2 separate regions of the Homo sapiens genome follow, and region 2 is linked to region 1. Evidence: fine-mapped expression QTL. A gene starts in region 1. The other region holds a variant in brackets. All regions are shown on one strand. Distances are from middle to middle. Region 1 holds the start of CRYBG3 (crystallin beta-gamma domain containing 3). Region 2 overlaps GABRR3 (gamma-aminobutyric acid type A receptor subunit rho3).

Region 1 (5,532 bases):
TAGTCCCAGCCACTCTGGAGGCTGAGACAGGAGAATTGCTTGAACCCAGGAGGCGGAGGTTTCAGTGAGTTGAAATTGCACCACTGCACCCCAGCCAAGGTGACAGCGCCAGACTCTGTCTCAAAAAAAAAATTAAATATACTGCATTATTGAATATATTATTGCTATGAGAGAAATTACATCAATCGGAGGCAATCCTTCCTGTTGAAACTTTGTCTTCTGATGCCTGGAATAATTTTCCACATGACACCTGATGCTGCTTTACCTTTCAAATCTTGTCTCACCTCTATTACCCACATATTTTCAGTGTCAGAGACCACAGAATATATCTCCTCTGGCTCTGCATCTTGGGTGTAATACTTGGTGAGCTGCGCTACAAACAAATTGGAATTTAAGAAATAACTATACTTTGGAGAGGCTGGAAACCACATAAATATATTCCACTAAGTCCAAACTAAATATATTCCCAACTGAAATTCCCTAGCAGATTCCCAAATGCTCTTGATAACTCTAAGTGGAAAAGAAAATCTAAGTGGACATCTAAGTGGAAAAAAAAAGAGATTGTGGTCTTAATCACATTAAAACATTTACTTTTGTAAATTTGATAAAACTGGCCATGGATCCCATTGCTGAGTTCACACTGGAAGAGACTGTGCCAGCAGGGAGCCAAGAAACTTGAGCCTCATCGGCTTCACTGTAGATGTGCTTCTACTGCAGGCACTCACTAAACGTCGGGGAATAACTGGATCAGTGAATTAATGACACTGTGCTAAATTAGTATCTCTAAGATCCTTACAGCTCTAAAATTTGACATTTTTACAGGCTTCCTAATGCAATCTTAGAATTTAGTATTTAGAAATTTGTTCATATGAGTTCAGGTTATAACAATGTAGGACATATAGAAAACTAATAAGTGCTCAGAAAGCAAATGAAGGAAAATTCAATGGTCATTGTTTTATGACTTTAAGCTATTTTGTCATAGACGCAATTTGTCTTAGTGTAAACATGGCATTATTTGTATTTACCATTCACTTAAGTGCTTTGCTGTGCTACCGAGTGGAGATCAGAGTATTGTTAGATATATTATTAGTTAAAACCATAATTCATTAATTAAATCCTATTGACTCCCCCCCATTTTTATTCCAAGAAAAACTTCCTGAACGAAGTACCCTCTGGGTAGGCACTGGGGCCTGGTTTGATCACAGAACAAGTCAGGGACAAATGTGATAGTCATTCAATAATACGTTGGGAAGACAAATTATCATTTGGGCCTTTTAGCTGGAAGAAACAGTTTGCTTTATTACTCTCTTTGGGCTTTTTGGTAAGTGGGTCTTCAGTGGAGATTCTCTTATAAAATAATAAAGCTAGAATTGGGAACTTGTCTTATTCTAGTCTATTATCTTAGTCTTTTTCTATTTTCTCAGACTAGGCTCACAGAGAAATAGGAAAAATTTACCAAAGAGTAAAAAAGGATTAATCTTGAGGGATAGACTGAGATGAACCCGATTGATGGAAATCGGGCTGACTGAACTTTAATGGGTTAAATCCTGCCAGAACAAATGAGAATGAGTGTCTTGGCTCTATTGCAGTTAGTAGGAGCTGGAGGGCTTCTGGGAGGCAGCGTGGGGAGGCAGGGAGGCTCAATAGCCTCCAGCAGGTGCTGAAAGGACTTGGGGCTTATAGGTATGCAATCTACTTATGAGCAACCTTCTCCTCCAGCACCCGAAAGCCAGAGGGGAGATTACTCCAAGGCTCCCCTCTGCTGTGGACATTTCATTTTTATCTCATTTACTTGTATACATTTTTTAATGAACAAAAGCCATATCACTTCCTTGACGTCTACTCCAGGGGCAGCTTGCCTTCAAACAAAAACAAAACACTTGGGGTGAATGGGCCTCTCAGTATCTCCTGTACTAGCTGCTATAGGGTATGAAAAACCAAGAAAAATCCATACCACTGTACTTAGACTTAAAACAAGTCTTAAGCACCCTTTGGTTCCCAGATTTCAGTGGCATCTGTGTAACGACTGCAAAATATGTTGCAGCATTGACAAGCTTGAAATCATACTTTTTGATCAGTGCCGTTTTTGAAAGAGTTCGCAGGGAAGTATGGCGTGTGAAAAGTCTGAAGCACAGCGCGGTTAGGAAAAGTCACACCACAGAAAGCCAGCAGAACGCGCCGGGAGGTGGTGACCGCCTGACAGGTACCCCCTTCTCCCTCCCGCCGCCCGGTTCTGTGCTAACGCGACTTTCGCCCTCAGGGTTGGAGCTGTATTTGCGGTAGCTGTTTCTTAGCTCCCAGCAAGTCCGGGGCGCCCCGGTACTGCAGTTTGCCAAGTGTTTTCACAAACCTTAGTTCATAAACCTCTTTCAAAAGCCCGAAGAAAACCGTTTCTGTGCTCTGACTGTAGAATAGAAAACACAACGGTCACAGAAAGTAATTGAAGGCAAAGCCCAACAGGCTGCAGCCTGAACTTGTTTGAGCCGTAAGCCCGAGCCTAGCGTCGCACGCTGGGCGACTCCCCTCAGGCTCTCAGGCCGGCGCCTTCGGGGGACCACGTAGCGCCCCAGCGGTGGCGGCTGCGCCCGGCTCAGGGCGGTGCCGCGGCCACTGGCTCCTCCTCGGGGTGGGGCGGGCCGCGCCGGGCGAGGGCGGGAGGAGGAGCAGCCGCAGCGGCGTGAGGAGCTGCCGCGCGAGGAGCGCGTCGCGTCCGCACTTCTCCTGCCCGAGAGAGACTGAGCCGCGCTGGCAGCTCGCGTCGAGTCGGTCTGCCCTAGCCGCATCCCGCGGCGCCCGGTCGGGCTCCGGGCACCAGGCAACACCTAGGCCGTTCCCTTCAGACAGCCCCGGGCCAGCGGCCCCCTCGGGAAATGTCCAGCGGCCGCAGAAGGGGCAGCGCCCCCTGGCACAGCTTCTCCCGGTTCTTCGCTCCCCGAAGTCCTTCCCGGGACAAGGAAGAGGAAGAGGAGGAGAGGCCGGGGACGAGCCCGCCTCCAGCTCCAGGCCGGTCCGCTGCCAGGTGGGAGTCGAGGAGGGGGTCGCGGGGGGGCCCTGCACATATTCGCGGGATGAAGGCTCCCGGCCTGACCGCCGGCAGCGGGCCGCTCTTGGGCCAGGCTGCAGTTCGCTCGCCACTTTCTGTTCTCCTTCCTCCATTGCTAAAGTTTCCTCCTCCTTGCCCCGTTCCCGTGCCGCACTACTCGCCTCTCCTCTGCAGGTTAAATCGGGGTGAAGTTCTTGCCCGGCAGCCGGACGCATATCCCCCGATCCCCGCCTGGCTCCGCGCTCTTCCTTTCCCACTTTCCCCTGCCCGGACGTGATTGGGTTCCCGTTCCACACACGCTCTACTCTCCAAGTTCTGTGGCAAAAGCGATTTCCCCGGCGTCCCGCCTGCAGTAATGGGAAACACTTGTGAGCCGAGCGGAGCCGTCGGCCAGGGGAATTGGGGGCGCGATCCCAGCACCACTTGTGTGGGAGGAGATCGGGGCAAAAGTGGAAAAGGTAAAGCTTTGGGGCGTCACCCCCTCAGCTGGTATTTTTGCCATCTTATTTAAATTTTCTCAAAATGATTTTTAAAAGGAATTGTGATAATGCGTTCCCAAGACTTTCACCAAAATGGACTGGACATGTAAATGACGCCACCCTTCTTTATTTCTCATCTCTCCTAGAAACATCTGCCTCAAGTTCCCAAACAGATTCTGGAAATCAGGTTTCCAGCTGTCTTGGTTTCAGTAATCAAAATGTACCCTTTCTCTGTAATATTTTTATCTTTCCTTCACTTTCCCATGTTCAAAAATCAAAAAATTTTAGACATGCCTCATTTAAATGCCTGTTTCTGAGTCTTTTCATCCCCCCGAAGAAAGAGGGGTTAAGTAAAACGCAGCTCGCTTTCTTAAACTTATGAGAGGCTTACACTGTCTTCTCCCGAGATTGCACTAGAATGACCATTGTCATTGGAAGGACACACTCCAGAAAACCGTGTTTACTTCGGACTCAAGATTTCCTGGTGGGCTTAAAAAAAATGGATAGGAAACAGAACTGAGAGTGAGCCAATTCCATTAGTATTCAGATTTTGTGATGTGATTTTAGTCGTTTGTGTGTTCCTCGGTTTCCCCGCTTGTGAAACATTTTCATTATGACCGTCTGTTAATAACATGCCACATGTTTCCAAGAAAGCTCCTACGATAATTGAGTGGTTATTCTCCTGGGACGTTTCAGCTATTATTGCTCTGACTGTTGAGAGTTTAAAATTCAAAGTTACACAGAAGTTAAAAATAGTTTTTAAGTCTGACAGATCTCATCCAGGGTGTCAGCTAGTTCTGTTGGTGTGGGCAGACAGCCTGTGGTGCCTGCCACCGCCGTAACAGCACTAACAGTCTTGGATAATATGAACGCAGTCTGCAAGGAAATCCCAAGTAGGCGCAGCAAAAGTTGGGAACTTGAGAGTCAGTGTTAGAAAGGAGTAAGCAGGTCAAATTCAGGCTCATGTCAGTAATGGCCTGAAATCCTGCTTGCCTCTCTGCCCTATTTTGGCTTTTTAAGGCACTTCTCAATTCTAATTTCTTTACTGACTGGAGCTGACCCCTCCAGCAACTAGTTCCTTGTTCACCTACCACTTCTCTATTCTCATCATCTCCAGATTGGCACAAATTATGGCTTTTCAACGATGAAGATTTTAATTGTGCTTATATCAACGCTAATTTTGTTCTCATCTTTTTTGGAACTTGCCAGATGTTAGGGGGATAGCAGATGACCCTTTATGTGGGTGTTTTACTGTTTTAAATGAGCTTAAATCTTTCATTTCAAGGGCATAAACAAACACAAAGCCTTTATTGAAAGTTTAATAAAACAAATGGAACCGCTTTATAGTACTGAATGTCCCAGTAACACAACACCCTGATGTTAACAAGATTGGAAACAGAATTGCAATTTGTCACTGTGATCTTATTTCAAAATGAAAGAGTATTTTGGCTATTTCTCTTTGTGGGCATAAAAACTTTTATCATTATGAGAGCTGGGTATACCTTCTGTAGTGATGATTTTAGATGAAGAGGAGTACAAAATTAAAAAATAAACTAAAACATAATTATGAGACCCGTAAAAGTCGAATTTACAACATCCTGAAACTGTTTTTTTGCCTGCTCACAAAATGCGTACTGGGACAAACACCAGGTCTTTGGGGAGCTGCCATGCCTTGATACAGGTCTTCCAATATTTTACTGTTTTGAACCATAGGAAAATCTTTGTTTTTATGGTGTGCTGTGATTTATATGGGCTTCAGTTGGTGACAACACTTCATTATGTATTCTTTCTTTGTCACAATTAAAGAAGGCCTATTAGCATCAACACTATTGTATATCCCAACTTAGGCGTAGGCACTCAAATTGCTTGATTGTACTCATATTAGGTGGTTGACCATTTCCAGGAAATGCTTATATTAATTTATTTTAGATGATAAAAAGGAAAACTGCAATTGAAGTTTTCATAGGAAACTCAAAAACTCCCAGAGTTCTGTGGATCCCAGTTTGAGAA
Region 2 (5,000 bases), 180 kb after region 1:
AGTGCTTTCCTCATTGTGTCTAGAGGGCTGGAAATGTGCCCTTGGTCTTGTATTTGGGTCTATGCTGCCACACTGCAGTACTGAGGTTAGGGCACATGCTCTGATGTGAAGAAACAGTTCAAATAATTTAATTACTTATTCAGATGGTATTTTTTCCTTGAAGATATTCAAGTCTCAAATGCTTGTAGATTGAATATTTTAATAGGGAAAGGAGGTGAGCAAATTGTTAATATTAATAATTTATGTCTTTCAAATGATCTTTTGAAGTATGCATATAATTTGTGAACATTAACTTACAAACCACCCTTTCTGGAATGAATTGTGTGATAATTACAATAATTGTAACAATGATTGTAATAATAACAATCTCCTCTCTAGATAGAGCACTACAAATGAAAGAGCAAAATCAGATAAAATGAGGGGGATCAGCCCTGACCAGCAAAAAAGGCAAGTGGGATTATCTCTTGGGTTCTCATTAAGTAACATGTCATCTAAGTGCTTAGCTTGGTATCTTCTACTTTCTAAGATCTCAATAACTGCTAAGTGGGTCTGAAATGGTTCCCATAAATCAGTGTGTGTGACAGAGGCATATAGCATGTTAGACGGTGTAGATAATCAACCCTGTGTAGTGACTTAATGAGGCTGGCAACGTCTCTCCACCTAAAATCTCCTGCCAACTAATATGCCACTGTACCTGAAATTCCACTGTGGTTGATTCTGATTTTGGTCTTTTAGTTAAGTCCTAATTTCTAATCAGTATTCATATTTTCAAATTCAAGCATCCCTTCCACATTCTTGTTAACCCACCAAGGTAATTTGTTATTAATACACTAAGAGTATAGTGTGAATTAGTTTGAAGGTTTTCCTTTCTGTGATGTAAGGGTTTGTCCTGAAAAGCTAAATGGACTTGTATAAAGCATGGGGAGGTTTTCTTAAAAAAGAAAAGAGATAAGCTTTAAAAGTGAGGCTGTTTATGCTTCATAATTTCACCCCCTTTCTTTACTATCACCCAACTGCAGGTCAGTCAGCAAAGACTTCATCCCTAAAATCCGGGTTCCCAAGGAAAGAACTCAATTACAATTTGCCCTTGAGGATGTCAAGATCGATACTGCAACCTGGATGTTCATCTCTGACTATCCCTACTAAACCACCACTCTCTTTTCCTCTCCATGTATGACCCATTTTATTTACCTCCCTTGAACTTTCTCCCATGTTAACATTTTATAAAGATGGGGAAAGATTTACCCAGGGAAACTCTTGCAGGAACAGCTCTTCGGTCAATCCAAAATGAAACCCATGAAAGCATCACCATCAATATGGCTGGGAAATAGGTTTGCAGCACAAAGAAGAAAACATGCCTCCTTAGCACAAAGTTGATGAAAAGCCTATTGTACCAACCTGTGGAAAAAAGCCAAAGTTTTCATTAGAGCAAGCTTCCCCTTAGAAACACTGCACTTAGTGAAATGACCTGCTTCTTTAGACTCCAAGCTCTTGGGGACACGGAATTTGACAAACTCATCTCCATTTAGTTGGGCCTGGCACTCCATCAACATTTGTTCAACCAGCTGAACTGCAGTCTGCTTAATTATTTGACTCAAAGATCCCCTTTAACTTCCAAACCCGCAGTTCAGGGATGAATAGTGGTTATCTTTTGTGGGATGGCCTCTAAAGATCTGTCTCCACAATATATTGTATTGTGGCGTTTCTGCAAGAGGGAAAGTCTTCAATACATGACTAATAATGGCATAAAAGAACCAATAAACCATTTATTAGCTATAACAAATGAAAAAAACATTTAACTGAATGAAAAGATTCAGAGTATGTACTAGGTCATTGGATTTTGACCTGAGATGGAGACAGCTGGGGATTCAAAGGAGAAAGAAAACAGCATCCATAAGCTAGTTTTACAATTTTAAAGTCTCACAAGTACCATAATTTGTGCATGATGAATCTGCAAAAAAGTAACCAACTGATGTTTCTTTGCTTCCTATTGAAATTATATAAACTCACGTTGGTAATATTAACTGCGCTAATTAAAAGCACCATTTGTGGTGACATCCACACACACATTTTGTTCAGGTTTACCTCTCCCATTGACTACAAGGAAGTTTAAAGCCAAATTTTCAGACATCTACAGGACTTCTCTGAGCACCATTCTTTAATGACCACATACACATACCAGGATATATATAATACCTTATCCTTGTTTTTCTTTTTTTTCTCATACATTTCTAATTTATATTACCTTGCTTTATTTCACAATAACTATGTGCTAATCTTGTTAAATCTTTACTAAAATAAGGCAATACATGAGGAAACATGGAAATACATCTTTTCTGAATAAGTAGCAAGATTTTTTTTCTATGATAAATGCTGTTTATTTTCAAATAACATTATTCAAAACACAGGGACTATAGGTCAAAAGTTATAAAATAAAAATCATAGGTATTGCAGAGTTGGAAAACCCTTCTGCTAGTCTCAGCAGTAATTTCTTAGAAACCCAAGACGGCAAACCTATTAGATGGATCACTTAAGTACTTAGGCATTTGGCCTAAGAAATACACCTGGCCAACCCACACTGAACTGGCAGACTCTACTCTTAGAATCCTATTCTCAATGAAATACTCATTATCTTTTTCTTCCTTACCTAGTTCTAAGCTTCTAACAGTCAGTTTATATATGTTCAGGAATACCAAACAATTTTATTACCAGGAGTAATAAAATATACATCACATAGTACATTATAAAGTTAAAATATAAATTATTTTTAAGCTTCTCATTGTCTTGTATCACCTACATCACAGCCCCAATTTATTACTGTGTACCACTGAGAGTTTCAGTGATGGCTGTAGAGTACAATAACAGCTTTCTGACCTTACAACTTTATATAACTACTGTGAGGTTAAAAGAAATAAGGAAAACCTGTGAAAGAAATTCAAAAGAAAGACAGTATTAAGGTATATAGTTTTCTGTTCATTATTAACTTGAAATAAAATTAGTTAACTGCATCCTTTCTTTATTCATAATTTTCTGAAGAACAGTTGTCCTTTTTTTTTTTTTTTGGTGGGGTGGGGGCAGGGTGGAGTAACCAGGAAGTCAAACTGTGGCTCTGTCTTG[T/C]GGTTTTAGACTAGGGGTGGTATTTTAGTTGAACCTGCAGGTCATGGGGAGTCCATTTCCCTATCAGGAAAGGTGGTGCTGCCTTGGAACGTTGTGAAGCCTTCATTTTGGGTAGTACAATAAAAAGTCTGATTCTATTTTTGATGTTTGACTGCTAAAAGCTCTCAAGCCCAACTTCTCCTTCTGCCCTACATCTGAGCAAGTTAATAAAAAGCCTAGGTCTCTTTTTGGCACCTGTGAAAAGTTCAAACCATGCATCTTGTCCTACGACAGGCAGCCTTCACCCTAGCTGCACCCCCTAGCTACCATAAAAACCCAAGCCAGTAGCCCCTTCCTGTTTTCTCAAGCCATTTTTCATTTCAGACCTGCTTGGGAGCCTGCCCATCTCTCTCTAGAAAGCCTCATTATGTAAGTAATAAATCACTTCATACCCTTTTGTCATGTGTATGGCATCATCAGTTTTGGCATCTGAACTAAATTTTGGATGGGGACGGGTACATCTGCCTCCATTAGTTTGCCATACAGTAGAAAGAAGAGGAGTTAATAACAGAGAGAAAAAGGCTAGAGAGTTGGCACCCAGGGAAATGGAGGACTGGGCCAGTATTTGGGGAGTCAGTCCCAAGACAAGAATAAAGAAGGTTTTTATACCTAGAGACAGTCACCTTCAATGGCCCTTTGAAAGTAGGCCTTAATACTCTCTATGAAAAGGATCAAAATAATGTGGATGAAAATAGGGTGATGATGACAGCTACTAACTAATATTTATTGAGCCTCTATTATATGGCAGATAACATTCTAAGGTACTTAACTATATGACATCATGTATCCTCACAACCCTATGATATAGAGAGTATTATGAAACCCATTTAAAGATGAGAAAGTTAAGGGTTAGAGAGATTAAGCAACTTGTCCAAGGTCAGGTTGCTAATAAATGATAGAGACAGGGTTTGAACTTAGGCAGTCTGTTTCTACTACTTACACATTCAGCCATTAGATTATGCTATGATAAAGAATAATTATTCAATGCATCCCTTAGGGGCAGGAGTCATTTCTTTTTTCTTTGTAAATTTATAGTGCATGATTTTGAGAATTTTGAGAAAGGGATCAGGAGGCAGAAGCCCTCATCTGCTTGTTAATATTGCCAGGTCGTGGTGATTTTTGAACAGTGGCAACGGTAGTGGTGAAGGCCAAGAAAAAAAAAAAAACACCCTGTTGTTCAGCTGTAAAATGGAAACTAAGGTCCTATAACTATATTTCTGACTCTTATAGCCAGAGTCAGATGTATAGTTTTTCTATACACCTGGGAGTGGTGGTTGTGGCTGGTAGTTGTAAGGATAGGAGTGAAGAAAACAAATCAAAAATTATTTTTGAGGAAGCTAAAATATTTAAACAGGAAACTAGTCTGAAAAAGACACTTGAGTTTGTCAGAAGATTATGTTTAATGATTCGTGGATAATGTGAGGCAGAGCTATCACATGCTCATGAACTAAAATAAGTTTCTAAATGTAATCTTTCCGAAACCTAACTAAGGGATGGTTAAATGAACCCAGATATGATTATTGATTTGATATTTGAATACAACTTCCAAAATGCCTCCCTTCGGCATTTTTCCTACCAATCTCTGTCATTAAAAAAAATGGGTATATTGTAACAAATTAAAAAATACAAGTGTTTTTTGTACCTACTTCTCAGAGGTATCTATTGTTAATCTTTCTAGGCTTTTAACACACACACACACACACACACACACACACACGATATGCACAGATATGTATATAAGCACTCATGCACTCATAAATATGTATACATACATTCTTCAATAACAAATATGGGATTTTTAAAATATATTCTTCCGTAACTTGCTTTTAAAGAATATTAATGTA

The links. PIP is the estimated chance that this variant, and not a neighbour inherited with it, causes the effect.
Region 2: its variant is fine-mapped to the expression of CRYBG3 in whole blood (INTERVAL, PIP above 0.99). The same link has a PIP of 0.9 or more in B cells.

What each region holds. Positions count from the first base shown.
Region 1 is chr3:97,819,337-97,824,868 of GRCh38, forward strand. CRYBG3 (crystallin beta-gamma domain containing 3) reads left to right here and starts at 2,675. Exons shown (of 22, transcript NM_153605.4): 1 at 2,675-3,019. The coding sequence starts at 2,871. LOC101929298 (a long non-coding RNA gene) reads right to left here and starts at 2,440. Exons shown (of 3, transcript XR_427389.3): 1 at 2,351-2,440. RefSeq lists a silencer at 2,452-2,821.
Region 2 is chr3:98,000,370-98,005,369 of GRCh38, forward strand. It overlaps GABRR3 (gamma-aminobutyric acid type A receptor subunit rho3), which reads right to left. Exons shown (of 10, transcript NM_001105580.3): 8 at 1,246-1,398. Among named protein-coding and RNA genes, the nearest start is that of RIOX2, 30 kb to the left of the region's middle. The variant T/C (reference allele first, on the strand shown) is at 3,118.